Linked DNA regions of Homo sapiens: regions 1, 2, 3, 5 and 6 are each reported to be linked to region 4. The links are microRNA targets in miRTarBase. Many come from high-throughput screens and were not tested one by one. Region 4 holds a microRNA gene; each other region holds the end of a gene's coding sequence.

What was found. Region 4 holds the annotated microRNA hsa-miR-3665 (AGCAGGUGCGGGGCGGCG, at 1,986-2,003, shown strand). A microRNA usually pairs through its seed, bases 2 to 8, with sites in the 3' UTR of a target mRNA and lowers its output. Matches are read on the target gene's strand: a 7mer-m8 pairs with bases 2 to 8, a 7mer-A1 pairs with bases 2 to 7 and ends in A, and an 8mer does both.
Region 1: the mRNA of LAMA4 is a reported target of hsa-miR-3665. Seed matches in the 3' UTR shown: 7mer-A1 at 1,745-1,751 and 7mer-A1 at 1,810-1,816.
Region 2: miRTarBase lists WDR41 as a target of hsa-miR-3665. The part of its 3' UTR that is shown has no 7-base or 8-base seed match.
Region 3: miRTarBase lists KLF3 as a target of hsa-miR-3665. Seed matches in the 3' UTR shown: 7mer-A1 at 950-956.
Region 5: the mRNA of COPS7B is a reported target of hsa-miR-3665. Seed matches in the 3' UTR shown: 7mer-A1 at 4,370-4,376.
Region 6: the mRNA of CYP4A22 is a reported target of hsa-miR-3665. Seed matches in the 3' UTR shown: 7mer-m8 at 369-375 and 7mer-m8 at 459-465.

Annotation. Positions count from the first base shown.
Region 1 is chr6:112,105,143-112,110,217 of GRCh38, reverse strand. It overlaps LAMA4 (laminin subunit alpha 4), which reads left to right. Exons shown (of 39, transcript NM_001105206.3): 39 at 636-2,287. The coding sequence ends at 781. Among named protein-coding and RNA genes, the nearest start is that of FAM229B, 20 kb to the right of the region's middle.
Region 2 is chr5:77,428,863-77,433,923 of GRCh38, forward strand. It overlaps WDR41 (WD repeat domain 41), which reads right to left. Exons shown (of 13, transcript NM_018268.4): 13 at 2,071-4,425. The coding sequence ends at 4,273. Among named protein-coding and RNA genes, the nearest start is that of WDR41, 61 kb to the right of the region's middle.
Region 3 is chr4:38,696,566-38,701,640 of GRCh38, reverse strand. It overlaps KLF3 (KLF transcription factor 3), which reads right to left. Exons shown (of 6, transcript NM_016531.6): 6 at 124-4,559. The coding sequence ends at 4,378. Among named protein-coding and RNA genes, the nearest start is that of KLF3-AS1, 34 kb to the right of the region's middle.
Region 4 is chr13:77,695,003-77,700,077 of GRCh38, reverse strand. MIR3665 (microRNA 3665) reads left to right here and starts at 1,962; the gene lies at 1,962-2,066. It overlaps SLAIN1 (SLAIN motif family member 1), which reads right to left and starts at 2,391. Exons shown (of 7, transcript NM_001242868.2): 1 at 1,539-2,391. The coding sequence starts at 2,164. RefSeq lists silencers at 1,324-1,473, 1,634-1,873, 2,074-2,633.
Region 5 is chr2:231,807,027-231,812,101 of GRCh38, reverse strand. It overlaps COPS7B (COP9 signalosome subunit 7B), which reads right to left. Exons shown (of 7, transcript NM_022730.4): 7 at 2,849-4,615. The coding sequence ends at 4,457. It also overlaps the pseudogene GAMTP1. Among named protein-coding and RNA genes, the nearest start is that of COPS7B, 23 kb to the right of the region's middle.
Region 6 is chr1:47,148,437-47,153,511 of GRCh38, forward strand. It overlaps CYP4A22 (cytochrome P450 family 4 subfamily A member 22), which reads left to right. Exons shown (of 12, transcript NM_001010969.4): 12 at 166-1,291. The coding sequence ends at 361. The region is part of intron 5 of CYP4A22-AS1 (CYP4A22 antisense RNA 1); the gene reads right to left. Among named protein-coding and RNA genes, the nearest start is that of CYP4A22, 14 kb to the left of the region's middle.

The sequences.
Region 1 (5,075 bases), not on the chromosome of region 4:
GATTTCTAATTAAGAGGAGAAAGTTCCCTTGGCATACCACAGGGCACTTGTGCCCACACAAAGACTAAGCGAGTTATCATTACCCTATTTATAGTTCTTAAACCCTGAGCTCAGAAAAATTGAATCTTAGTTTATTCGAATTCATTACTTTCTCATTATATTTTATGAACAGGCAAAAATGTAGAGGCTTAAGGGTGAAGGGTAATGAATTAAACAGAAATATTAACCAAGTCCAAAAATAGTGTGGAAGCTAAAATTTCTTTCCTCCTTCTTAGCAAAGTACACATTATAAGTGAGGCCCAGGTGAAATTAACTTTAAAAAACATAGGTAGATCATGAAAATTCACTGCTGAGGCTTTACATGTAAGTGGTAAATTTCAGCCTTGAAAGACAGCTACAATACACAGAAATGTGATCATGGAAAACATGGCAAAACGTTAAAATTACCACATGTCCATAGGACTTCACAAGCAAATAATGTTACTGAGAAATGAGTCAATTATAACTATGTTCTATTTTTGAAATGTAAATCATATTGATGATATGAGCAAATATGTATACTTTTACCAGGAAGTAATATTTGGGCTTGGAATACCTCAATTGCAATCTTTGTTTTTATTTCTTGCTCTTTTCAGAATCTCTACTGACACCACGCTTGGCCCCCAGCAAACCCTTCACAGGCTGCATACGCCACTTTGTGATTGATGGACACCCAGTGAGCTTCAGTAAAGCAGCCCTGGTCAGCGGCGCCGTAAGCATCAACTCCTGTCCAGCAGCCTGACATGACAGAGCACAGCTGCCCAAATACAAAGTTCTTTAGAGCACTGAAAGAAACACAAAGCCAGCCAGGAGGAACAGTAACTCTTCCTTCGGGTGGAAGCTTTCATCGAGTTGAACAGGACTTAAACGAATCATCAGGGACCGGATATTTCTTATTTCTCATTTGGATTCTTAACCTTGAATCCAAAGTGTCTGCAATGGACAACAATTGAAGGAGTGGCAAACTTACTTGTATTGAGAGCACACGCAATTCCTACTGGTGAAATTACTGTTTCTGTTTCTAATAAAATAGAAGGGATTCCAAATAAACACTTGCACACATTTTTGAAGTGCGGCTAGATTCTCAGATTCACCTTTCTTCCAGGGAAGATAACTTTCAATCTATATAAAAATCTCTGTCCTAAAACTACCTTTCTTTATTTTGAAGAGACTTACTAACTTACATATAATCTAAATTAGATGATAGATTTGTTTTTAGCCCTTTTGTTTGGTCTATCAGTATAAGAAGAATATTTTAGGTTTATAGCTGAAGTTATCAAGGTTTAATAAAGTAAATTTCTAACAGAATACTAGAAAAATGCAGTATAATTTAATTTTTTCTAAATAAGAAACACAGGAAATCAACTACTTTTTCCCCTTCCTTATCTCCTTAAAAGAAAAATAAAATTGTACATGAGAGGAGGCTTCTGTAGGTTATTATTACCATTATTGTGTGTTCTATGGGAATCATTGAGGATATCACAGCAAAAACAGTAGGACAAAATCATAAAATTCAATTTAAGAGTACACAAGTCCTTTTATTAAAAGTTTGCTCCTAGCCTGGGCAACATAATGAGATCCCATCTCTGCAAAAAAATTTGTACATGGGCATACACCTGTAGTCCCAGCTACTTGGGAGGCTGAGACGGGAGGATCGCTTAAGCTCAGGAGTTCAAGGCTGCAGTGAGCTATGACTGCTGACTGTACCTGCACTCCAGCCTGGGCAACAGAGTGAGATCCTGTCTCAAAAACAAAGTGTGCTCTCCACATACCTGCAACACAACTAGTCTTATTTCTAAAATGTTATAATCTTTTTTCCAAGTAGCTACATTAATATAGTCTAGAAAAAAATGGACTTGAATAGCTGGTAGAATATTAAAATATAGAAATGAAATAAAAGAATTATATCTAAAAACCTCAACTCAGAAGACAGAAAAAGAGAAAATAGGCCCTGATATCAACAGAATTAACAATACATAAAAGGAGTAACTTTTGAGGGGAGAGGATATAAAATATTTTGAGGAATTACCAAGGGGAATAAAACAATGTTACCTTGAAATGATTATATATATATTACATATTGGTATATATGTCCATACCTACCTATATCCCCTGCTACCCTTCTGTCTGAAATATACAAATAATGATAATGTTGAAGATATCGATAAACATAGCTAATGTCTGTTCATAGAGGACTTACTAAGTGCCAGCCACCATGATAAGCTAAAGTTAATTATTTTATTTGTTCATTCCACTAATCCTTTGAGGTAATATTTGCAGCTCAGATAACTCGCCCACTGTCATTCAGCTGGACCAAGAAGCCGGTAGTCAAAACAAGACTGCCTGCCTCCAGGAGCAGCATGATTGTCACCTTGGTTCCCTGCCTCCAAAGACTATCTGCCTTCCAGCTGACCAGAGCCAGAGAGGTACCATAAAGTAGTGAGCTGGCAGGGTCTCACTGGGAAAATCAAGAGGGCACTTGCTTTGACTCATCTAGAAGGGCAGCAGGTTTCTAGGGGCCAATCCCTTCTTTAGGACTGGGTGAGAGAAACCATTTCAGCACAACTGGCAGTGCAACACCATGATGCCCCCAACACCACACACACAAACCTGCAGCAAATGGCACACACAGAGTCTATGTAGAGTATAGAAAGCCAACTGAACATGCCCGTCCAAAATGTGAGCACCATAAATTTTCATCTGTGTTATTCACTGATATGTTGTAAGAGCTGAGACCAGTGCCTGGCAGGTAAGTATATGCTCATAACGAGAGCATTTAAAGGAAGCCCAGTTTCCATAAAGTTATCCCCTCACCTCACCTCCTAAGGCAATCACTTGACTTGTAAATTTCCTGGAAGTCTGAGAAAAGGGAAAAATGGACAGTGACTTCTCCATCTGAGTTCGACTGAGCCCCAGAAATCTCTGGCTTGCCTGAGGGTGCAGGGAGAAGCCTGAGGGAGAGAGGGAGGTGTGGGAGAGAAGCCTGAAGTCCTCAGAGAGACAAAAAGCACTCCCTCAGGTCTCTCTGATAACCTTTTAAGTCCTGAAAAAGTAGGTAAGAAGTTTGGCTACCATGAATAGGACCACTCAGTTTCTAAACATCACAGCACCCAAGGACACCATTCCCAGAGAAGACTGCTAGAGGACAGGATGAGGTGGGCACAAGGAAGATGAGATTAGGGGTGAAAGCCTGATGATCTGCCAAAGCATGGGACAGGAAGGCAGAAACGTAAGTGGAATGTAGCATGACCCTAGCAGCCGGAAGAAACAGTTGAATCTCTCAAGGAACTTCTCAAGTGTAGTGATGGTGGCTGCTCAGGCTTGAGTCCCTCACCAGCCCAGCCAGACCATAGTTTACAGAGAGCTAAACCAGCAACCTCAACAGAACATGTTGTCAAATGATCCTGTCTAAAAACTGTTGATTAATGAGCTGATGTCAGCCAGATGGAAGGTTATGAAAGCATGGTGTCACCAGGTTGCCCTAGGACCTATTTGTAATATTCCCTTACAGAAAGCTTACACCTGGAAATGTAAGAAATGTGGGAAGGCAATTTATTCAGGGTAAAGGCCTTGGAAGACTAAAGAATTAAAGAATTCATACTGCTGAAAACTCTATTTATCCTTTTAATGTTTTTTTTTTTTTACTTTAAATTTTAGGGTACAATGTGCAGGTTAGTTACATATGTATACATGTGCCATGTTGGTGTGCTGAGCCCATCAACTCGTCATTTAACATTAAGTATATCTCCTAATGCTATCCCTCCCCACTCCCCCCTCACCACAACAGGCCCCAATGTGTGATGTTCCCCTTCCTGTGTCCATGTGTTCTCATTGTTCAGTTCCCACCTATGAGTGAGAACATACGGTGTTTGGTTTTTTGTCCTTGCAATAGTTTGCTGAGAATGATGGTTTCCAGCTTCATCCATGTCTCTACAAAAGACATGAACTCATCATTTTTTATGGCTGCATAGTATTCCATGGTATATATGTGCCACATTTTCTTAATCCAGTCTATCATTGTTGGACATTTGGGTTGGTTCCAAGTCTTTGCTATTGTGAATAGTGCCACAATAAACATACGTGTATATGTGTCTTTATAGCAGCATGTTTTATAATCCTTTGGGTATATATCCAGTAATGGGATTGCTGGGTGAAATGGTCAAATGGTATTTATATCTCAAGATTCCTGAGGAATCACCACACCGACTTCCACAATGGTTGAACTAGTTTACAGTCCCACCAACAGTGTAAAAGTGTTCCTATCTCTCCACATCCTCTCCAGCACCTGTTGTTTCCTGACTTTTTAATGATCGCCATTCTAACTGGTGTGAGATGGTATCTCATTGTGGTTTTGATTTGCATTTCTCTGATGGCCAGTGATGATGAGCATTTTTTCATGTGTCTTTTGGCTACATAAATGTCTTCTTTTGAGAAGTGTCTGTTCATATCCTTCGCCCACTTTTTGATGGGGCTGTTTTTTTCTTGTAGATTTGTTTGAGTTCATTGTAGATTCTGGATATTAGCCCTTTGTCAGATGAGCAGATTGCAAACATTCTCTCCCATTCTGTAGGTTGCCTGTTCACTCTGATGGTAGTTTCTTAAATCTGTAGTGATGCCCCTACTATCATTCCTGATTTGATAATTTGTGTCTTTTTATTTCCTGATAATTCTACCTAGAGGTTTATCAATTTTATTGATCTTTTTTAAGAACCAGCTTTTGTTTCTATTGATTTTCTCTATTATTTATCTGCTCTTATATCATTGTTTCTGCTCTTTATTACTTCTTTCTTTCTGCTTATTTTGGATTTAGTTTGCTCATTTTTTTCTGTTTTCTTAAGGTAGAAGCTTAGATCATTGCCTTGAGATGTTTCTTCTTTTCTAATGAAATAATTTATTGCCTTAATTCTCTCTAAGCGCTACCCATGCATTTTGATATGCTGTGTTTTTGTTTTCATCCAGTTCAAAGCACTTTCTAATTTATTCAGTCATTTCTTCTTTTATTCATGGGTTATTCAGAAGTGTATCACTTAGTATTC
Region 2 (5,061 bases), not on the chromosome of region 4:
ATGACCCTATAATTTCCTAAGATCATTCTTTATTTCTAATTTAAGATTTTTAAATTTACTTGCCCTCCATGTCAGGACTGGTTAGCATTCTGGGCAAAAAAAAAACAAGCCTGTCAGTTCACTCAGAACCTACTCAGCTTTAGAGAGAGAAACAGAAGGGATGATCTTGTGCCCTTGCGCTATGTGAATATAGCCAGAGACTGAGGTAATAAATATATTTTAAAATAAAAATGACAAGGGATTTGTACACTGTAACACTATGTAGTGTTACTTCTGCTGTTGCAAGTATCTTAACTGTTGAAAGCTAAACTCAGGAAATGGAGAAAATGTACATAATATACATTGACCCATTATTTTATTCTAAATTGAAAGTCCAACTTTTAGCAGCAGTCTACCTGCAACTACTGAACACCATCAGGTTTGAGTCCCTACCAGAATCTCCCATCATACTGTTATCCCCCATCTCTGTGACCTTAGGGCATGCATGAAAACAAAAGCAATCTAGTCCCTAGGGTTGGAGACTGCCCTCTAGACAGTTTTTCATGGCAGAAAATTAGAATACAAGTATACCTCATTTTATTGCATTCTGCTTCATTGTGCTTCAAAGATACTGCCTTTTCTACAAATTGAGGGCTTGTGGCCACCCTGCATAGAGCAAGTCTATCGGGGCATTTTCCCAGCATGGGCTCACTTTGTGTAAGTGTCACATTTTGGTAACTCTTAGAGTATTTCAAATGTTTTTATTCTTGTATCTGTCATGGTGGTCTGTGATCAGTGATCTTTGTTACTACTGTAATTGTTTTAGGGTACTGCAAACCATGCCCGTATAAGACAGTGAACTTAATTGATAAATCTTGTGTATATTCTAACTGTTCCACCAACTAGCGGTTTCCAGTCTCTCCCTCTTCTTAGACCTCCCTATTCCCTGAGACACAACAATATCGAAATTAAGCCAATTAATAACCTACAGTAGCCTGTAAATGTGCAAGTAAAAGAGTCACATGTCTCTCACTTTAAATCAAAAGCTACAGATAATAAAGCTTAGTGAAGAAGGCATGTTGAAAGCCCAGGCAGGTGAAAGCCATGCCTCTTACACCAGTTAGCCAAGTTATGCAAAGGAAGAGTTCTTGAAAGTGTTAACTCCAGTGAACATGCAAACAAGAAAGTGAAACAGCCTTACTGCTGAGATGGAGAAAGTCTGAGTGGTCTATATAGATTAAACAAGCCACAACATTCCCTTAAGCCAAAGCCTAATTAATTCTTCAATTCTTTCTTCGAAGACTGAGAGGTGAGGATGCTACAGAAGAAAAGCTGGAAGCAAGCAGAGGTTGGTTCATGAAACTATCCCCATTAACGTCAGAGTGCAAGGGACAACAACAGCAGGAAGTTGTCCAGATGATCTAGCTAAGATCACTGAAGGCGACTACACTAAACAACTGAGTTTGTGAAGATGAAATGGTCTTCTATTAGAAGAGATGTCATCTAGGACTTCATAGCTGGGGAGAAGAAGTTCAATGCCAGCGAGTGTAGTTGGTGCCTTTAAGTTGAAGTCAGAGTTTATTTACCAGTCCAAAAATCTTAAGGCCCTTAAGAATTATGTTAAATCTACTCTGCCTATGCTCTAGAAGTGGAATAACAAAGCCTAGATGACAGCATATCTGTTTATAGCATGGTTTATTGAATATTTAAGCCTATGGTTGAGACCTGCTCAAATTTCTTTCCAAATATTACTGCCCATTACAATGTTACCTGGTCACCTAAGAGTTCTGATGGAGATGTACAAGGAGGTTCATGTTGTCTTCGTGCCAGCTACCACAACATCTATGCTGCAGTCCATGGGTCAAGGAGTCACTTTGACTTTTAAGTCTTATTTATTTAAGAAATACATTTAATAAGGCTGTAGCTGCCCTAACTAGTGATTCCTCTGAAGAGTCTGGGCAAAGTCAATTGAAAACCTTCTGGGAAGCATTTAGCATTCTAGATGCCACTAAGAACATTCTGATTCATGGGAGGCGGTCAAAATTCCAGCATTAAAAGGAGTCTGGAAGAAGTGGAGCCTGAAGATGTGAATGAATTGCTGTAATCTCATGATCAAACTTTAATAGATGAGAAGTTGCTTAAGAATGTGTATAGAAAGTGGTTTCTGGAGACAGTCATTTCCACAGTGAAGATGCTGTAAACATAGTTGAAATGACAACAAAGGATTTAGAATATTCTATAAACTTAGTTCATAAAGGAGCATCAGGATTTGAGATGACAGACTCTAAATTTTGAAAGAAGTTCTACTGTGGGTAAAATGCTATTAAATAGTATTACATGTTACAGAGATCTCATTTGTGAAAGGAAGTCAATTGATTTGGAAAACTTCATCGCTATCTTATTTTAAGGAACTGCCACAGCCACCCCAACCTTCAGTAACCACCTTAGTCAACAGCCAGCAGTATCAAGACCCTCCACCAGCAAAAAGATTATGACTCGCTGAAGGCTCAGATGATTGTTAGCATTTTTTAGCAATAAAGTATTCTTAAGGTATGTACATTTTTTAGAAATTTAAGACTGTAGTATAAACACAAGTTTTATAGGCACTGGGAAACCAAAAACTAGATGTGACTCACTCTATTTGCAATAGTTGCTTTTTTGATGTGGTCTGAAACCTAACCTGTAGTATCTCTGAGGTACGCCTGTATAATGACCAGAAGGAATTTGCTGTGGTACTTACGGTACCATTTGCTTCCAAAATTCATGTGATTTCTACCACTCCATTTGAATAGATTACTATCACAAAATACTAGCCTAGAACAGGCTAGGAAGTAAAACAGTTAAGTCTATGGCTCCCTTGTGTCATACAACTTCAGAAAACAACTTTACAAATGTATGGGCCAATGCAGAATTTCTAAAGGAAAAAGCACGTGAATAATGGGAGAAAGTCTTCTGTAATTGAGGTAGCTTAAGTTTTAATATTTCTCCATAGAACTTTTCATGACTCAATGTTGTTTGGATTTAAAGTAGTCATATAAGCCTTTTCTCATTCAGTCTTCAGTTCCTGTTTTTAGAGCTGCTTGGTGATACTGGGCACTACAGATTTAATTGCAAGGCCTTACTGCACTGGGCCTCAGTTTCCTCATTTGTAACATTATGCCACTGGTCTACTCAGATGACCTTAACTCTTCCAGTCTTTGTAGGTAGTTGTGGAAGCAACTGTCAAAGCTAAAACTAGTAAAAGAACTTATGGAGATTCCCTTTAGGGTATATTTGTAGTATATTTGTATAATGAACAAATAAATCTGTAGGTTTTCTGTAAGAAGGGTCAGTCTGCTAACATCTGTCACGTTGCCCTTTCTTCATCAGTAGTTTAAGAATTTCAATCTTTAATGTGTAGACTACTTTCTAATATTTTCATTTTTTAGCACCAAAAGGAGAAAACATATTGTTACAAGGCTGGTTATAGTGTCTCAATGGACACTGCAAAGAACTACATAAAAGAAGTCTGTCTCAAGCAGTTCGTATTTGAGTCAGTGGTCAGATGGGGCAGTTGCGCTCAGCTGCAGTCCCTGACTCCGGAAACACTGTGCCTCTCAAATGATCTAGAGCTCATCCTTGGCGTACATGAGGGGCAGTTGTTGTTCTAGTACCCATTTAGCCCATGGCTCTTCAAGCCAATTCACACTGGGAAAAACACACCCTCACAAGATGCCTATCCATTTGAGTTCATACAGGTTTTAGTAGCTAGAACTAAAAAACATTTTTAAAATTATCTAAACAAATTGGTACCAAAGAAAACTTGCCATACTTAAACAGTATATATGTTCCCTTTTTTGGCTGAGAGATTCAAGTTTGTGCTATATAGAACACTAACAGTTACTAAAGACTAGGAAAATTTGCAGGAGAAAGGCTATTTTTAAACTTCACAATAATTCTAAAGGAAGCCAAATAATAAAACTTCTAATAAATGCCATAACTTAACTATTACCTCTATTTGTACCTTTCACAAGGATCTAGGTTCAAAATAAGCTCAAAACACAGCACTCACCACTTCAACAGCAGCTCAAAGTCAAATGGAAAAACTTGTGGTATATTCTTTGGAGGATATACTAGGACCTGAGAAGCAACATGTTCCTGGTTGGTAGGTCCACAAAAAATTTAAACATGTAGAATTTTATGGACTGACAAAAAAAATTACCAATTTAAGTGATCAATATATTAATGGTTTTCAGAGTAGTACCCGATATTTGATGTTCAAGGTTCATGCATGTGTATTTTTAATTCCTTAAACTAGACAGCAAGGTATAAGTCACCATTCTCCTCTAATTTTTGAAATAATCTTAAACTGCGCAATCCAGATTCTCGCTCTCCATTTTTCCACAAAATAATGAGATGATCAGCGGAGCACGTCACTAGTCCATGATCTTCAAAGTATAGAAACATCTGTAAAGAAAATTAAAACTGATTATAGGGACCCCGAAAAGCAGAGAAGTGTCTAATACCACATTAACACATGTGCGTGTGAGATATGTGCCTTAAAGACTCCTTTGGATCTGGGTGTAGAACTTCATTTCATTTTTCAGTATTGGTAAGTCACATACAAATAATATCTAATATTTTAATCAGAATTTTGTTAATATTGTTCAACTACAGAATAGCTATTTTTGTAAAGTACATGAATTCTCATAGTTCTTCCAGATTTTTTCATCATCTGATTTTTCAAGTATTGGTTTTACTTAACCATTACTTATACTGTATAATGGCTATGGAAAAAATGTCTGAATTCTAAATTTCCCAAGATAAACACTGGCTTCAGCTCTCTATAAAAGTAGATATACTCAATCCATAGGTGTTAAGTGTCAGCACTACGTTTATGGTCCCTACCCTCAAGAAGATTCTGAAAAGCAAATCATAATTGAAACAATAAAGGTACCAATGAGAGATTATGTAATCAGGTACTAAATAATGCAGTATAGACTATGACATGTCACAGAAATTCAGAAAAAGCTTCAAAGGGAGAAAATGCCCCAAGTAAGGGGAAGGGGCTTGCCCAGTGAAGGAATAGGCTGGAAGCTAAGA
Region 3 (5,075 bases), not on the chromosome of region 4:
CAAAAACAAAAACAAAACAAAACAAAACTCAACTCTAAATCCCTATCGGAAACTACTTCTTCTTCATGTGATGCTGGAGAATGCAGTGTCCATGAACATGGTTACTAAAGGCTTGAAAAATAATTACTTTTATCCAGAGTTATTTACTTTAATGCGTTATTGTTCTGTTCCTCGTTCCCCACTCCCCAACATGAGAGTCTTGATATTTTACTCTAAAAGTTTAAAGTATTATACACATGCGTCTTTTAATACAAAATGCTGCAAGTTCTTTTTGGAAGCAGGCAGGGGTTCATAAATAACAAATACAAGAAGTATTTCAAGAATGAACTAGGTGAGTTTGTAGATTTTTGCTGGATTGTCTGCAGTTTTATGATTTCAGCCTAGGAGACTTCCTGTTGGCTGTTTTCAGAAAACCAGGGACATAGCTTGAGGGCTGAGTTAATTCCGGTAGTTCATCTTCCAGTTAGATCTATTTTTCTGTCCCTCCATCAACAATAACTGCCCATCAGAGTAAGTAATGTTCTAAGCAAGGGTTCTTACATTGCTCTGTAAGTTTTGCTCTAGTGATCACTGCATATGAAGTAATCACATGATCACATTTAATATTCTGATGGTTTTATTAACAAGTATATAATATATATTGCATACTGTATATAGTATATGAGGACTGTACAGTACAAATTTATGTTCACAGTTTGACATGACAAAATGTCATTACTGAATTCCCATTGGACTACAGAGTAGAAACAGAGAAGGTACATTAAACATTCACATCTTTAGTAAGAAAGATTACCAAAATGTTTCAGTATCTGCAAGTATACTAATGCATGCTAAAAACCTTTACCCATTCAGTCTTATTAGCTTATAAAATATATTACACTTTATTAAAAATTTCTGCATAGTTTATACAAGTATTAAAGTACTGTAAATGTAATAATCCTGCTATATTTGCAGGTATGGTTTAAGAGATGCTAAGCAGAAAGATTATTTTGACCCTCTAACACTAAGTACATAACAGAAAAAAAAGTGCTAGTATTTGTAAAACAATATTGTTGTAGCCCTCGTTTAATGCATGTAAAGATGGCTTTGTAAATGTATTGTTTAGGTGAATTTGCGATCATTTAGCAATTGTTAACCTTGACCAAGAAGAGAATAAAGACAGCTCGGAGCAACTTCATGTATGACAGCAATTCCTTCAAGACAACTGTATATTTTCAAACCAAATTATTTTAAAACCTTAGATCTTTCAGATTGTCTTTACAACAATCTAATCAGGAATGATGCGCATATATACAGTATCAGCAAAATAGTCTTTCAAATTCCACATTAGTGCAATACTGATAGTGCAGATGGGTGTTTAATAAAATATACATATACATATATAGTTCCCCTGTAATTCTGTTCCAAGGCTCTTGAAACTTCTGTGTATTTAGCATCTCCCTAGTTGAATATAGCTATGCTGCTAACACATTCTCCAAACCAAGCAATTTAGAATGTTAATGCCCATTTATGATGTAGATTCACATAACTCTAAAATACGATGGATTCTGATTCTTCTGACTTCTCTAGGATGACACTTGGGTAACAACTGAAGAAACTCTATAACAAACAGAATTTACGTAATAGTAACTTCATGTTTACAAATCATTCTCATCAATTTAAAATATTGCGATTGAAATCACCATTGATAGTAACATGACACACATCATTAAAACATGTTCAAGGGCATCTAATCTTGTATTTGAGGTCTTCCACAATAACAGCTAAAAATGACTAAGAGGCTAAATTTCTCAACTATCATAGTAAAATACAAATATATATATAAGAAAAGTTTGGTAAGGGCCAATTGGTAATGAAAGCGTATTGACCAGCATGGGAATAGAGAATGGCCGCTCTGGGTTGCTTTTGTTCAGAGTTAAAACGGATCTTTGTTAAATGAACTGTTAACACAATCTAAGCAAGCTGAACAGTAATGTTAAGAGTCTTTGCAAGGTCTTGCTTCAAATCTTTTGAACAAAATTTAAATATGCCACAGCAAATGCATCAATTCCATGAGATGCCCATGAGGCTATTCACTGAACTCAGGCTCAAAGCTGATCCCAGATCAATCTGATCCTTTCTCGCCCTTTCCCCCACTTCTCTATGGATTGGAACACACATAAACTGGTTACCTCGGTCAAAACAAAAAGATTTTCCTTGCGTTCCATCTTGATTCTTGTGTGTTGTGAAAGAACCATCTCAAGAAATGAACACTTTGCCATGAATATGACTAAGCATTTACAATACAGACAATATCTACTTTTCAAAGAGCCATTTTATCACTCAATTCATGTCATAGTTGCAAAAAAGAAAAACTTCAGCTGAAAAAAAAATTATCTTTGCCTTTAGCTGAAAAACAAAACAAAACAAAAAAACAGCCCAATTAGGATGTTTTAGTATCCTAAAGAAGTTTTGCAGTGCTTTAAAAAAAGGAAAATCAAACCCAAGTGCCAAGATAACACATTTCTTTGCATTTCTTAACTACATTTCTTTACAGCTGGTTCACAGGGCGGATGAGTGGGACCTCTTAGCCTCTTAGGTGCACAGTCCCTACAACTTTTATTAACACAGTGCCATCAAAGCAAGCTCCCCACACAATTCACAGGCCTCCGGAATCACTCATTCACAGATGTTTTAAAAATGATCAAACAATGTATTCCTCCCAGTTAAAGTTGTGTTGGATCCTGAGTTGCGGCTGGGATGAATCTTCAGGATTTCATTCTTCTCTCTTCTCCTCCATTCTTGATGAAGGGGAATTTGGTTATATGCACCCACATTTAACTACTGTTGCTCACTTTCTTCAAATTCAGGACCAATGACATTTCTATGTATGAATTATTTTTATTGGCATTTAGACTATGGTGCTCAAAAGCCTGCTTTTGAATAACTTCCCCCAATAATGGTGCTATTTATCTTCAACATAAACACGAGCCATTATTTTCAGTTTGTTCTGACACTGAAATAGTGATAGGAAATTGCCAACTCTAACAGTAAACTTTTGGGAATTTTTGAGCTACATATATGAATCCCTGATCTGTGGTTTTCTATATTTTCTCATAAATTCCCAAAATAAAGGTATGTGTGCTTCACAACTAGTTATATTTACAAATAGTGTCACTCAGGTCTTAATTGAATCAATCCATTAAAGCATTAGCAGATGCTTTATGGTATGTGTCATGAATACAAATGACAGCCAATTTGGCACCTTAACAGCTCACACAGGAAGAGTTTCTGTATAAAAGCTATGTGATTAATTTGATAAGGGAATACAAGTACCACTCAACATTTCCCTGTTTACAAAAAAAGCTATAAGCAGATTGGGTAAAAGAAGAACCATCCATACTCTTACCCGAAAGATTTCTTACCATTACTGGGCAAATATTCCATGGAGTCCCTACTATCAATGTTTGATGATCTCATATTAAGGACATTGTAGGAATGGAGATAGTTGCATGGATAACCCCATCGGTATATGGCTTTGCAGCATGGTTCTACAAAGCTGAGTATGCACAGAGACTGAAGCTCTGGGAATGCTGCACACAGCTAACAAAATGTTGAAACCTCACTGACAACCCCTAGCCCAGGAGGAATTGCCTCTTCTGCTCCCCCTGCTAAATGGCCCTCTCCTCCGACTCCATGCTATGAAAACACAGCACCCTTCCCTTGAACTGCTACACATCACCCACCTAGATCGAAAGTTTGGGCTCATCTCCCATTGGTGGCAAAGACCTCCATATGAGCTGCAGGCACAAAGGAGGGCAAAGAACTCGATTCAGATGAAGTCTAAGATCCAGGTTGACAAGATTTGTGAAGAATGACGGAAGAGGTGACTGCACTAGCTTGAAATCTGGCTGTACTTCTAGCTAACCGGTGCAAGGGGCCACACTTGTTTTCACTGTCAAGCATAAAATATTATCACAGGGCAGAGGTAAGAATGTCTCTGGCAAGGACTAGCAGTCTGGATACTGTATTTCTAATACATTTACTCTGACATTCTTTTGAGGAATACATGGAGAACTGACAATTGGTTATGTTAGTTTACATGTTCCCTTGTTCTTATTACATTAAACGTATCTGTAAGAAGGGTTTGCTTAGCATCCCCAGAAAAAAAAAAAAAAGTGTTCACATTCTTTAGGTCTGACCCGTGGTAAGGAGAGGGAGGATTAGAGAACATCTACTACTGACCATATGGAAGTTTTGGATGATATAAATTCAGAGATTCAGACCAGCTGAATCAAATTAAAATGTACATGTAAAAAATGTGTTAGATAATGGGAGGCAGGACAGAGAGAGAGCCAGGTGAGTGGGGAGTCACGCTGAGGCAGGACACAGAGGCAATCAGACTAGCATGTGGCGTTTCCTATGGAGGGCAAGATGGTCAGAACGGGAGAAGCTGCGGTCACAGTCCGGGCACTGGAAAGGTTTGATTCCAGTATGTTTTCGGAAATGTCTTGTTAGTTCATCAGACCGAGCAAACTTCCATGTGCACCCTTCCCATGTACATTTGTAGGGTTTTTCTCCTGCAAAAGGAAAAAGAAAAGAGCTATTTTTTTTTTCTGTAAAGGTAGTAAAGATCTTTGAGTTAATGCTTGACAAATATTATTTCCAAGATATGTTCATACATTTGTTCTTCAATAACACAGTGCATTATAAACTACTGCAAGACAAGCAAGAAGAAAATGAACTAATACCGTAATGTTTCATTGGCTCTCTGCCAAAAAAACGGGAGGAGAATTTTAAGAGTTCTTAAAACACAGAGTCACTGAAATCCATTCTGAGGGACTACCAAATAGTGAATGAACACATGGTGATCTGTATTTGCACATCTCCCAAATCTTAAACCTGCTTGGGAGCTTAATTATATGCAGTGCTATTCATTTAATGAGATAATGAGAACTCCAAATTGAAAGTTTGTGGGATTTTCTTAAACTTTTCAATAGTTTTCCAAAAATATGAAGTCTCTAACAACTGAAGTATCTGTTAGGGATTAACATCTTATTTTCTTGTTTAGTCAATAACAATTAGGCCTAAGTATA
Region 4 (5,075 bases):
ATTTTAAGCATAAAACTGATCCCATATATCTCCCCATCAAAAATGTAAACAAGTTTCCTTCCACTGTTTACATACATACCATCAGAAAAGGCTAAGTAGGGACTAAATCAACCTAAAATAATTTGAAAGTGGCATAAGGGCTGAGAGTTATTAGTGAAATCTAAGGACCATCATGAGAGCATTTTCTAGTACCACATTCAGACTGAAACTGAGATTACTTTACAGAAATAAGGGTGCAGCTTTGAAAAAATGGCTTAAAGTTCCCAAAAGTGATGAGTTGTTTGATTTTTTTACACCTTGAGCTACCTGCACAGCTGCCAAAAAGTATTAAGGTGGATGATGAATACACCTCTGAAAGGCTTACTGTAACTCCATATATTTTGATTCTTGAATGAAACCAATTAACTAATGTACTTTACAGTTAGAGCTCTCACATGACAGAGTGTAAGGGAAAAGGAACACTGCAGTTCCCAATAGGAAACCAGTAAGGATCTCCATTTCCCAATCCCTTCCATGCAATCATGCAACAGAGACACAAAGAAAGTAATGAAAACACAGCTTGGAAAAACAGAAAGGGTCCTACATAAAAAGGACCTAAAGTAAAGAAGGACTACAGCAAGCCTCCCCCTAAAGTTACTCATTCATGGAAAGTAGACAGTGCTAACCAGATGTCAACTGAATAAATGCTGTCAGCCTCAAGTTTTCTGATAACCAAGCTAAAAAGTTTCCAAGAAATAAGAAAATAAGGCTTCTCTAATCTCACTTTTCTTCTACAGTTTAATTTAAAAAATTAAAGACAGTTCGTTGGTTCCTAGGTAAAAAAATAAATAAATAAATAAAAAAGTCCCTCCCACCTGTTCATTCCACTCCAAGAAAAGTCCTCTTTATTGGCACTATTTATGGGAAAGCCAGTGAGGTCACCCCATTTTAAAAAGCAAGTCAGTCTCTGAAAATAAGATTTCAATGAAAATGCAACGCAAAAGGGCACACGACTGCAAAATTCAAACAGCAAGAACGAACCTCTCTATAAAGAGAGATCCATCACTGCGCGGCTTCCGATGCCACCCGAGGAGGAAGAGCACGCAAATCCTGTCCAGCGTTCGTTTAAAACGAAAGAACAGTAACAGTCGCAGACAGAGGCCAACCCCTACCATCCCCCGTCATCCCTCCGAAAACACTGGGGAAAAGAGCAGCACTGAGCAAAAAGACAAGATGACATGGATTTTGCACTTAATGCTAACGAGGAGCTTGGGACCCAACAATCAGCAAATAGCAGAACCCATGGCAGATGGGGGGAAGGGGGGGCCGGTTCATCCGCAGTCGGAGCGATTAGAAAACAGGTTTCTGCCTTCATGAGAAGCCTCATCGTGGGAAGTGTCACCGCCTGGCTCAACACCTGCTGGGTCGGCCCCTCCGGGAGCCGCGGGGAGTCACCCCGGCTGCCGCGAGGGGACCCCCGTCCGCCCCCCGCCCCCGCTCCCCGGTGCCCGAAGCCCCCGAGGCCAGGGTCTCGGGGAAGGAGCGGAGCCAGGCAGTACCAGGTGTAGTCGTCCTCGTCCCGCCAGGCGGCTACGCTCTCCAGATCCAGCAATTCCACCTCGTCCAGCAGCGTGGGGGGCGGCGAGGGCGGCGCTGCAGCTGCCCCTGGCGGCGTCCCCGCGCCCCCCGGCTCCGGCCCGCCACCGCCCGCGCCGAAGAAGCCTGCTGCCGGCTTGAAGTAGACGAAGGGCGCCTCGGGTGGCTGCGCCAGGCTGCAAAGCAGGGAGGGCGCGGGGCTAGGCAGGCAGAAGGTGCCCGGGAACGCGGGGCTGGAGCCACCGCCGCTGCCACTACCGCTGCCGCCACCGCCCCCCGCGCCCAGCGCCAGCCCGAGCCCCAGGCCCCCTGAGGCCGCGGCGGTGGCCGTGGCGGCCGGGGGGCTCCGAGGACCCAAAGGCTGCAGGCCAGCGGGGGGCGGCGCGGCGGGCGGCGGCGGCGGCAGCAGCAGCAGGTGCGGGGCGGCGGCCGCGCTGGCCGCTCGACTCCGCAGCTGCTCGTTCTGCTTCTCCAGCTTGCGCACCAGCTCCTGCAGCTTCTTCACCTCCAGCTCCGCGTTCACCACCGGCCCGGAGCCCGCTCCAGAGCTGACCCCTGCCGAGGCGCATTTCACCTGCTCCGCCATCATCGTGGGCCCCGAGGGCGCCGCGGCCGCCGGGGAGTGCGCGCCGCCGCGCCGGCTCCTCGGGCCACGGGGAGGCTACGGCTCCTTCCCTGTCGCCCCGGCCTGGGGGGCCGACCACGCGCGGGCTGAGGCCGAGCCGGCGGTTCGCATCAGCACCGGGCCCTCGCCTCCGGCCGCGGCAGCCACCACCGAGCTGATCTGCACATGCTCAGTGCGTCCCTCCAGTCCCCTGGGCGTCGCGGCGGCTCCGGGTTTTAGCCGCGGCCCCGGAGCGGGGCGGGGCAAGAGCGCCGAGGGGGCGGGTGGGGGGGGGGGGGCGGAGAACCGTGGGGAAGCCCACCCAGGGGGCGGGGCCGGCAGCCCGGGTTGGGGCCGGGGAGCCGCACCCACCCTCGCTACCTAATCCCAGGGGCCTGATTGGACCTGGCCTGAACTTTCCCGCCACAAGCACCTCCTCCTGCCGCTTGGTGGGACAGTGAACTGCGCGGGTCTCTGAGGCGGTTGCGGGGACCAGGGGGTTCCCAAAGAAGCAGCTGCAGGTGCTGGCCCTCGAGTAGTGCACCACCGGCCCGCTGGTTTGCTCCCTTCCCAGCTCTCTGTTAGGCTCCGTGACAGCACTTAATAGCCACTGGCTAACGAATCCTATAGAAAACTTAAAGGCTGGGGATCGTTATTCTAAAAACCGAAAAGTGGAGATAGGGGGAACAGAAAGGCTTTGGGACCATGCCACTCATGTTCTCATTGGTAATAGAGAAGCAAAATGGTGGGAGACAGGAGACCGAGAAGAAAGAGAAGAAAGCCCTCTCTCTAAGAGGTAGAGTGGCCAGCTGCTAAGGAGACAAGTGTTTACTTATTTATTCTAAAATAGTCAAATTTGAACTGTTACCATCATTGTTTGTCACAATAAAAGAAGAACTGCTTTTTTTTTCATACTATGTATATTCATGCATTCCCCAAACAAAAGATCTTTGAGCACCTACTCTGTGCCAGGAACCATTCTAAGAGCTCGTGATGCGGGCAATGAGTACAATAGGCAAAAATGGTTATGGGGAGAAATATGAGTAAAATTGTTTAGTGCTCCTTCTATTAAATAATGTGTAAGTTATTAAAGTCAGACTTGCTGGTGGGAAAGCAGAAAACAGAAAACCTCAGAATTCTACCCAATACACTTTAATCTCACCTGCAAACCTGCTATTTCTTACCACTTGGAAAACGAGCAAATCTGCTTTTTTTAAAAGAGGCTTTTAAGCAGAAGAATTTAATCGAGTTGTGTTCAATGAATACTGACTGACTTAGCATTTTGAGTGTTTAACACAATCAGAGGAAAACCTGAGATTATATTATGAGAAAAATCTACACCACTGGTTCTCATCCTCAGATGATATACTATCTAGTGAAAGTCCTTGCTAGGGACTTTACATACCAATCTTTGTGACAATGTACCTCATTTCTCTGGAGCTGCTAACACATCGTATCTATTGGTTTCAGATATGGTTTTGTGTCTTCCTGCTCAGAAACACTTGTATCTTCTCAGTTGTTAATCTACATCTCTAGCTTCTGTGTGCAGGGTGGATGTTCTGCATTTAACATGCTTGGTGAGCGCTTCCATAAATTAGCTAAATGCGTGTGATGACTCCCTTAACCTTCCCTGTGTCCCAGCTTGCTAGCCCACCACCTAACCACCTGTATCACCCATCACCTTTCCAAGTTTCGGTATATCTTTAGGATTTTTTTTGGTTATTACCAAAACCTGGAGAAATGGAGTAATACTACTGAAAGTCCTAAGTAAAGAATCTATTGAAGGATTTTTCCCGCATGCTCAGTGGCAGATGCGGGTAGCAGTATCTCCCTGCAACACAAAGAAAGGGAGACGACAGACACAATGAGAACAAAGAGCTGCTGGGTCCCAGACTAGAGAAAGAAATTGGGAATAGGCACATAATAGTGAAGACAACAAGAATTAAGATGTAAAGAAAAGCCGTCATTTTACTGCACAATTTATATACACTCTAAAGAAGGAGAGAAACAGACAGCCCTTTCCTCCTTCATTTACCCAATATGGTCTATATACATCCAACAAGCAGTAGCCAAGCTTTTGAACCCTGTTTTCTAAGTAATAATTATCATAAAAATCTTTGTTCTTTAAAAAGAAAGCATGCATTGAAATTTAGACATAGAAAAGAGATGAAACATTGTTTTACAATTCTAGTCTGCATTATTCTTCTGAAAAGACAAATTTGCCCTTTTCCTACCTATTTTAAAAGTGTGAAATTATTAATGTCTAAAGAAAATTTAAATCATGTTTTTGCTTTCTCTTAATGCCCCTCTTTTTTTCCCTTCTGTGAATTGCACATGTACACACACCAGAGACACTCAAAATGCACACTGATTTCAAGTTGGTGTCCCCAGGATGCCAGTCTCTTTAACGTATAATTAAAGAGGTTGATGGTGTCAAGGTTTTAATTAAGCAGTCTTGATTTTTTTATTTTGATGCAAATTAGTAAGCTTTGTGTTTTGAAAGAAATTGCATGCTGTAGTTGCTCAATTGTAATGTTTTGATTTTAAATAAAATATGTAGGTGATTTCAGAGGTTTACAAAGAGGATATGAAAAATGAAAGTGCATGTCTCATTTAAAAGTTTATGCTTTAAGCATACATTTGATACACCATAAGGTAATGTGAAACATCCACATATCACACATTCAAAACTGGATAAAGAAATGCATGTTTCTCTCTATTCATTACACTTCAGAACTATCATCACTCTAGTGAATTTTAAGAAAGCACATGAACTTATTTTAATTTGTATTTTTCACATATATTTCTAATACTGTGTATGAACATTAAATAGATCCAGCAACAGAATCGCAAAAGCACCCATAGGTTCTTGAGTATATAAAAATAATTCTCAAAG
Region 5 (5,075 bases), not on the chromosome of region 4:
GCAGACCAACGCAAGGATGGGCGTAAACAACCCCAAGAAGAGCTGGGCTGCCTCCTGTCTCTGCATTCCCATCACTTCTTTCCTTCTTGGTTTTATCCTTAACCACGAAGAGCAGTTCTCACCCTTAATGTTGACTCAACATTTCCTTTTGATAATAAATACTTGCTTAGCATCTACCTTTACTGCCCGACGTCAAGTCACAGACAACCTACTTAACAGACATAAGTTTAAAAGACCCACTTAATGCCCTAAGGGTAATATAAGCTAGATATAAAATGAAATTTACAATAAAATATGCATTTCCATCTGCATATCCCAGGCATAACTGCAAGAAAACACGGAATGAAGCAATGAGATGCTCCTGGCTATGTGCAGAATCCCAGGAAGAAACAGGTACAATCACAGATTACCCAAGCCATGCTAGACTTGAAACTCAGATACCGTGGGTAGTGTGATGGGTCCTTCAGGAACAACAAAAATCAACCAATTGCTGCATTTTTTAAAAAGCGAAGTCTCAGGCTGCCAGAAAAACAACTTTAGTACACAAACTGGAACACTTTGGTATCAGGCAACCCAGCACCTCAGAGGTGGAGAAAACAACAAACATATATACATATCACCAGCAGTTTATCACTTGAGCTTGTTTGGTCACCACCCCATTTCCTGTGACTGAAATGGGGAGAGGAGAATCCTACTATCAGTGATGACCATCTTGGATTAGGACTACAGGAATGGGCTATACTGGGGGCTTTGACCACCTCCCTAATGTTACCCAAATAGGAACCATAATGCCTCTCATCTGAACAGAAAGAGCAAAAAGGGCTTCAGAAGGCAGAAAGCTCAGAGGTAAAGAAGGTGGCTCAAGCCAGCTCACAGGCACTGCCATTGAGGTAATTCTCTTTAATACTGTGGTGTCTCCTTCCCTAAGATGTCTCACTGCTGATGAGGCCATCTCTTTGGAATGTTCTATTTATCTATAAAACACTTCTGCACATTTTAGACTTGAGCCCAGCTGCCAGGGTGCCAGACAGGAAACTGCAGAGCTTGAAGGCCAAGCCTCCTATCAGAGTCCCAGTGGAGCAATGAACATCTGGCTGGGCCACTATTCCCACAATTTCTCTATCCCATACTCTCTGCTTCCTTATTAAGTGGCTGGGTGGGTTTGGCAAGCAGAAATGAGGTATGTGAAAAGTGAGATGGCTGCAGGGACTGGGCCCTGGCACGTCGGGTTCCAAGTTGGGGCTCCATCTGCAGCAAGAGCGCCCCTACTGCAACCCCCTTCGCTGCCTTCACCACCTCCAAAGGGGGCCGAGTCTTAGAGGTGGGCTTCGGCATGGCCACAAGAATATGGAAGGTGCAGGAGGTCGCCATCCAGGAACACTGGATCATGGAGTGCAATGACAGCATCTTCCAGCTGCTCCAGGACTGGACCCAGCAGCAGCCACACAAGGTCATCCCCTTGAAAGTCCTGTGGAAGGAGGTGGCGCTCCCCTGCCAGGTGGTCGCTTTGATGGGATCCTGTATGACGCGTACCCACTGTAGAAGGAGACCTGGCACACACTAGCTCAACTTCATTGAGAACCACACTTTTCACCTGCTGAAGCTGAAGGGAGTATTGCCCTCACCTCCTGCTACCTCACCTCCTACAGGCAGCTGATGAAGTCCAAGTACTCAGATGTCACCACCATCTGAGACGCAGGTGCCTGTGCTATTGGAGGCAAACTTTCGGGGGAAGAACATCCTCAGGGCAGTGATAGCATTGGTCTTGCAGATGATCATGTCGTCCCTGGTCACCAAGCCTTCAGCCCACACAGACCTGGCCAAACAATCCTCTGCCACCCCTCCTCAGTGGCTGGGAGCTCAGGCTCTGGCCTATCATGGCTCCATGACTGATCCTGGCTGTGTCACTGGGCAGCTTTTCTGGCCTCTACAATGGGAACACTACTGCTTCCCCGCCAGGGTCCTTGAGGGCAAAATCAACACTAACACTGGGCTTGCCCCTCCCTCCCTCAAAATAAAGGCAAGATGAACTCTCAGAGGAACAGCAGCAGGTAGAGGGGTAGCAAGGATCAAGTGTGGAGAGCAGACTCTAGATGAGAATGTAACACAGCAGATGACAGGATGTGCAAGTCAGGAGATCTAAGAGTTCTCCTTCTGCCAGTTACCACTGGGACACTTCAAATCTTTGAGATTGTCTTCTCATATGCAAAGCGAAGATGGCTGAATACCCTTACCAACCTCAGAAGGCTGTTTGGGTGGAAGGGACTGAATGACTTATTGTATGCAAACACACTTTGTAAAGCACTTTAGAGACAAGTTATTATTGTCGCCATCATTATTTTTAAGGAAGGTGAATCATGGAGAGGACCCTTAGGGCCTTGGGGCAATCAAATAAAGAATGGTCACAGACTTCATACAAGTCAAACCATGTTTCCTAGTCTACTTGCCAGTGGGAAAAACAAGAATGAAAGAAAACTTGCTGAGAGTGACTGTTTGAGGTCTAGAAAGAATAGCTGGGAAAACCTGTAAGGTTGAAAGGTGTTCAGCTTCTCTTAGGGTTTTATTTGTAGCAGAGATGGGATCTCACTATGTTGTGTGGACTGGCCTCAAACTCCCGGGCTCAAATGATCCTCCCACCTCAGCCTCCCAAAGTGTTGGGATTACAGGCATGAGTCACTGCGCCCAGCACTCTTAGGCTTCTTCAGAAATATACTTTCCCCAAAATTTCCCTAAGATTTGTTCCACCTAGATATTACCCAAAAGGATTTGGCGGTAAAATCGATGTGGGTACAGGCTTCCTCAACAAGGAATGCTTGGACACCTGAGTAATGAATTTCCAATGAGGATATGGGATGCAGGGAGTGCAACATTTATTTCATAACAGAACCCCTTTTCCACAGAGCAGCTGACAGGGGGCTGCATGAAACATACTTTGGAAATTAAAGTGAACTCTCCACTTGGGCATAATGTTATGTGGGCACATGGATTGGCTTAAAAGGGAAACAAGAATACTTCAACATTTGATCAACAGTAGGCAGTTGCTGGACATTTTAGAAAAAGGAGAAATCCATTTTTTGACCATGGCTAAACATGGGGAAACAGCATCACATTTTCCTGAACCACCCTAATCCCAGCCCCTCAAGATCCACCAGGTATGCAACCCCAAACCCCAGTCACATACATTAAATCTACACTTTTATTTTTTTGTTGTAAAATGTGCTTTTTCCTCAATGAACTTTAATCAGTCCAGGACCTACAAACACACACACACACACACACACACACACACACACACACACACACCCCACCCCACCCCCACCCTCCAACCAGGTGAAAAATCCCCGGCGATTAGTCTATAACAAATATTGACACGAGGGGGGACAAAAGCATGTTGAAATGTATTAGAATCAGAACCTGTACAAAAAAAAAAAAATTAAAATATAACCTGAAACTGTTCAAGTTCAGAAGTCTAGTTAAGTCTTTTTCTCTTGCCAGGAGAATGCCATCATCAGAGGGCTCTGGGTCATCAGCCAAGGAGGGGTGAAAAGACAGAAGCAGCAACAGGTCCTTCAGCAGACAGAGGGGCATCGATGCCACCATCCCTACCCAGGTGCAGCCAGGAGGAGTTAAAGATCTTGGGAGAGCAAGCATTAGCCGGCAGTTCCAGTGGGCAGCTGGGGCCTACACACCGAAAACAAGGCTGAGTAGTCAGAGGCAGCAGGAAGAGTGGCCAGGAGAGAACGCCAAGCCGGAAGGAACCATTTCTGCCACCCAGCAGACCCACAGCACCCTCTGTCTGTGCTCAGATACCAGAGGTTAGTCAACCCAGCGCTCTCAACTAATTGGAGATCGGAGCTGGGCTTAAGAGGCTGAAAACCCGTGGGTTTAGTAAACACAGCCCAGCATCACGTCCCTCCACGGCCTGAACTGGAGCTGCCAACAAGGGATGAGGCAGGAGAGGGAAAGCAGCGCATCTTGACGCCTGGCTAGAAATCACTGCACCATCGTGAGGACTGTGGTACCAGGGGCTGGAGAGGAGTGCCCCCTCCTCACAAGGGGAGGGGCCTCCTTCACAATCATCCCTGGGGGCTGGTTAAAGCTGCCTCCGGCTTATAACCAGCCTGACAAAATGACGTGGAGCAAAAGAAAAACTGGGAGGGAGACAAGCCCTTACACAGAGACAAGAACCTCCTGGAGGGAAGCTGGGCAGTGTCTGACCCTGTTTTGGGATGGCATTGGTGGAGCCCCTGAGTCTGAAGGGAACAACTGGGGAAGGAGGGAGTGGGTGAGGGGGAGTAACAGTTTTTCTGGAACAGTACCAACAGGGTGGGGAGGCGCTGGTGAGGGGACGGGCAGGTCTGGAACTCACTGCAGGTAGAGAGGGGAGGAAATGGGCCCTTGGTGTCCCCTCCCCACCTGACCCAGGCCTGGTGAGTGCCAGCTGCCCCAGCCGGCCCTAGTGGCGGCTGGAGACCAGACCTTTCACTTTGGACATCTTCTTGGTGGGCTGCCTCTGCTCAGCGTGAGGGGGACACTCCCGTTCAGCCAGCTGCTGCTCCATCTCCTGAGCCGAGGAGGATGCGGTGGCTTTGAGTGTCTTCTTGATGTTGGTAACCTGGTGGGGAGATATAGAATTGGAGTGCTCAGCCTGTATGTGCTCACCAAAACTTGCTCTCACTATGTCTTCACTTCAGACAGGAAGCTAAAATCCTCTGCAAGAAAACCTGAAATTCTCTTCAGAAATCCAGATGAGCAGAAACGAGCCTGGGCTACTCACAGCAGATTTGTGGAAATGAGTCAAGCAAAAATGTGGGACTAATGCTCTCCTGGTTGAAACAAATGGAAGGGGAACATTTGGCAAAGAGGCACATCACCAACAGTGAAATAAATCGTGATTAAAATGTCCTCAGAAAGAGGGACCCAAGAATTCTACACTCTGCTGTTATTCATTTATAAAACCACAAATATTTTCATAAAAACTTTGGGAATACAGCTCCATGAACCTTCTTGAATAAACCAGTAGAGGATGAACTTCAGCCAACTAAGTGAGAAATGAAGAAAATGTAATAGAAGTA
Region 6 (5,075 bases), not on the chromosome of region 4:
CCAGGATGGGGTAGAAGTGTCCGTGGGCTGTAAGTGTGCAGGGGCTGGACACATGAGGTTGGGCACTGAATGTCCAGCTCAGGGCTGGGGTCAGGGGCCAAAACCTGCTCAGATCAGAATGGGGCCTGAGGACACGTCTCAATTCATTGTCTCCGCCTGGCCCAGGAACTGCATCGGGAAACAATTTGCCATGAACCAGCTGAAGGTGGCCAGGGCCCTGACCCTGCTCCGCTTTGAGCTGCTGCCTGATCCCACCAGGATCCCCATCCCCATGGCACGACTTGTGTTGAAATCCAAAAATGGAATCCACCTGCGTCTCAGGAGGCTCCCTAACCCTTGTGAAGACAAGGACCAGCTTTGAGGGCCTCCACCTGCCATCCTGTCTTCCTGACCCCCACTCCTATCTCCTGCCTGTCTGCCTCTGTCCTGCTTTCTGTCTGCCCACCTTCCCTTCTTCCCACCTGCCTGCTGTCCCCCAGTCTGCCTGCCCTTCTCTCTCTCACCTTTCTCCAAGCTCCCTACCTGCTTGTCTACCTGTCTCCTACCCACCTGTATATCTTGTTGGGAGAAAAGCTGAGTGTTGGGAGAAGCTGAGGCCGAGCTTGCATGTCTGACATAATGTAAAAGAGTCTTGAATCATGTCCAGGATCCAGGGTCTAAAACCCCTTGTGGCCTTTGGAACACCAAGCTCTGTGCTGAAGGGTGGAAGGCTACCCTGACGCACCATAATCTAAGCCCGGGGCATAAAACCCCTCGTGGCTTGGATAGAATCCAGGGCTCGTGGCTCTGGAATGTGTCTGGACTTGCTGGCTCCTCGCTCCTTGCTCTCCCAGGATCAATTGTATCTTGAGTTAAAAGAACCTGCTCTCCATTATCTCAAGTAACAGAGCAGATGCTAAACCGTCACAGCTGTAAATCATGTGCTTAATGCAACATGCCCTTTCGACCCACCCCCCATTCTCACCACCTGTTTCTTTGTTTGATCACCAATAAATAATCTGCACTTCCAGAGCTCGGGGCCTTCACAGCCTCCATACTTAGCTTTGGCGCCCTGGACCCACTTTCTCTCTCAAACTGTCTTTTCTCATTCCTTTGACTCTGCCGGACTTTGTCACCCCCACAACCTGGTGTTGGGTCCGATAACCCCAACATCCCTGAATCTCCACCCACCTCCCAAACTCCTGCCTGCCCTCCAGACTGTCTGCCCATACACCTGTCTCCTTCTTCCTGCCTGCTTGTCTGTTCCTATATTAGTTTCCTATTGCTGCTGTAATAAACTATCACAATCTCAGTGATTTTAAATAACAGCTTTTTATTCTCTTACAGTTCTGGAGGTCAAAGTCAGATATGGGTTTCACTGGATGAAAACAAGTTCTGGACAGGGCCAAACCCCCACCCCTAGAAGATTTCAGGGAGAGCCCTTGGCTTTTCAGCTCCAGAGCTGCCTTTTTTTGCATTCCTGGTACTGTCCCCTCCTTCCTCTTTAAAGCCAATGGCATCTTCAAATCTCTCTCTCTGTGACTGTCTTCACATCTCTTTCCCTCTTATAAGGACCCTTGTGGTTAGTTACATCAAGCTTATTAAGATAATCAAAGATAATGTCACCACCTCAAGATCCGTTACTTACTCAAAAGTCCATTGTGACATATGCAGTCCCACAATCACAGGTTTCATGAATTAGGATGTGGACAACATGGAGACCCCATTGTTCATCCTGGCACAGCCCCTACCTGATTGTCATCTGATGTGTCCATCTAAATCTCTCCTGTATGCTACCTACCTATGTACATGATTGTCAGCCAGACAATCCCTCTATCTTCCCTCCTCTCTAGAATAAGGTTCACAAGCTTGCATGCTTTGTCTAGCTTCACATGGAAGGTGATAGGGTTAGAAGAGGAGACACTAAGGCAGGGAGATAAATCCCTACTGAAGAGGGAAAACGGAGATGAGGTGTGCCCATTGGTGCCAGAACCCTAGCAGGGCCTGATTTGATCCATCCCCCTGCACACAGCCTCATACCATGTCTCCCCTGGTGCCCACACCCTCTCCAGCTCCTGGGGCTCCCATGGTAGCTGAGTTTAGACAAACGATATTTATCTAGGAGATCAGAGGGAGAAGCTCACACCTGTAGGGAAAAGACTCCAGGCCTCCATTCCATTCAAGATTTAGATTCAAGATGAATCACAGCAAGGCTGAGCTAAGAGCCTGTCTTGCTGTGTTTTGTGTTACTGTAACCGAATACCCAAGGCTGGGTAATTGATCTAGAAAAGAGGTTTATTTGTCTCATGATCTGGTGGCTGAAAAGTTTAAGTTTTGGCAGCTCAATCCGATGAAGGCCTCATGCAGCTTCCACTCATGGCAGAAAGCAAAAAGGGAGTGGCATATGCTGAGATTGCATGGTGACAGAGGAAGCAGGAGAGAGACTAAGGAAGCAAGACTCTGTTTTGATCCCGATGTCTTGGAAACCTGTCCATTCCAGATACAGCTAAAACTCAAGCCTGTGAGGTGGAAGGGGTCACTAATCTCTTCATAAAGGATCTGTCTCCACGATCTAAATATCTCCCACTAGGACCCACCTCCCAACACTACTGTGTTGGGGATCAAGGCTTCAGGAGTTTGGTTGGGAACATCCCACATCCCAGCTATAGTGAGGCTGCACTGAGCTGAGCAGGAAAGCCTCAAAGGCCTGGTCTGTCATGAGGACCTTGTAAACTCAGCTCTCCACAGTCCCAGTGAGGTGCAGAAAGAGACCCCAGCCTAGCAACGTCACCAGGTACCTGTCAACTTCCTTCATATATGGAACCTGCAGGCTTCTCAGGAAGCTCATGGAGTGGGCAGCTGTCCAGTCAGGGGTGGGAGGAGCCCAGGTAGGCAAATGGGTCTGGCTGGTGGAAGAGGCTGTTAGACCCCAAGCAGCTCCTTCCCAACAGCACTTCTTGGGAACCAACTTCTTGGTTGTCCTCTGCCTCTCTGGCTGGCCACCCTGATGGGGCAGGGGCATCCTCAACCCTGTCCACACTTGGTGACTGCCTGGGTGCTGGTACTGCTGACCCTGGGCCCTGTTCCAGCACCCGGGCCCCATGTACTACCCCTGGGATAGTGTCACTGATTGTCCCAGCCTCTCTTAATGCAGACCTTGCTTCTCTTCCTAAATCTGAACCCAAATGTTCCTCCCACCAATTGCCCACTCCTAGCCCAGGACCTTGGATGCCATAGAGAGAATTTCCTCTGCCTGAGGTCTGAAAGCTCATTCTGTTACTCTGAAAGGGCTTCTCTTCTAGTTTTTGCCTGCAACTAGGACCTCCCTCCAAGTCCCCTGAGTTCCCCGGTCATTGGATTAATTCAGTCCTGCTCTGAGAATGGGCAGGAAAGGGGAGGGCTGGACAGTCGGTGGTCAGCCAGGAGTGGAGGGAGATGGAAAAACTCGGAGAGGAGAGTGACCTGGGAACATCATGGACAGGATGGCCAGCCAGTCCCCTGGCATCAGGGGATTTACAAGGGCTCATGTTGGCCATGCTCAAAGACCACAGGACAGTGGGCACTCACTCCCATTACTACCCCTAATACCTGGTTGAAAAGAGGAAGAGGAAGCGAATCAAGTAAGTGAAAGTCTCATTGCAATTGGAGAGGTGGAGACCTCAGAGTGATCAATGAGATAGGGAAGATGCACAAGGAGGGGGAATCTGAATATCTCTATGTAAAAGAATGATGTTGAACTTTTACATACACGATATACAAAGTAAAAAAAAAATGGATAGAAGGGTTGAAAGATAGCCCACAGAATGGCAGAATATATTCACAAATCAAATGAGAACATGTAAAGGACTCCAACACAAAACAACAAAATACTACAATCCCATTCAAAAATTCAAAGGACTTCAACAGAAACTACTGCAAAGAAGATATGCAAGTGATCCATAAGCGCACCTGGAAAGATGCTCAACTTCATTAGTCATTGGGGAAATGCAAATCAAAACCACAGTGAGATACCACTTCATATCCTTTAGAAAGGCTATAATTATTTTTTAATGGAAAATATGAAATGTTGGACAGAATATGGAGAAATTGAAACTCTTATGAATTGCTGGTGAATGTAAATTGGCATAGCCTATTTGCAAAACCAATTTGTGGTTCCTCAGAAAAATAAAATCACAATTTCCATGGGACCCAGTAATTCCACTTTTGGATGTATACCCAATGGATTTGAAAGCAAGGATTTGAACAGATCCTTGTAAACCAAAGTTCACAGCAACACTATTCACAGTAGTCATCAGGTTGAAGAGCCCAAGTGTCCATCAACAGATGAATGGGTTCACAAAATGTGGTATACAGATAATGGAGTATTATTCAGTCATAAAAAGAATGAAGTTCTGATACACACTACAGCAGGAATGACAGTGATAACAGTATGCTAAGTAAAATTTGACAGACATAAAAGGAAAAATATCATATGATTCTACTCATAAGTGGCAAATTCATAGATTAGACAAAGTAGTAGAGAATAACAAGGACTTGGAGAAGGCAGAGTTATCATTAAATGATTACAGAGTTTCTTTAGAGTGATGAAAACCTTTTGGAAATAGGTAGTGATGATGGTTGTAAAACGCTGTAGGATCTGCTGCCAAGATGGCCAAATAGGAGCAGCTCCAGTCTGCAGCTCCCAGAAAGACCAACGCAGAAGGTGGGTGATTTCTGCATTTCCAATTGAGGTAACCTGTTCATCAGTTTGGGACTGGTTAGGCAGTCAGTGCAGGCCACAGAGGGTGAGCAGAAGCAGGGTGGGGCACAGCCTCACCGGGGAAATGCAAGGACTGGGGGCCTCCCTTTCCCAACCAAGGGAAGCCATGAGGGACTGCGCTATCCAGCCCAAATACTACATTTTTCCCACGGTTTTGCAATCTGCAGACCAGGAGATTCCCTCATGTGCCTACACCACCAGGCCTCTGGGTTTCAAGCACAAAACTGTGTAGCTGTTCAGGCAGACACTATGCTAGCTGCAGGAGGTTTTTCTTCATACCCTAGTGGTACCTGGAACCCCAATGAGACAGAATTGTTCACTCCCCTGGAAAGGGGGC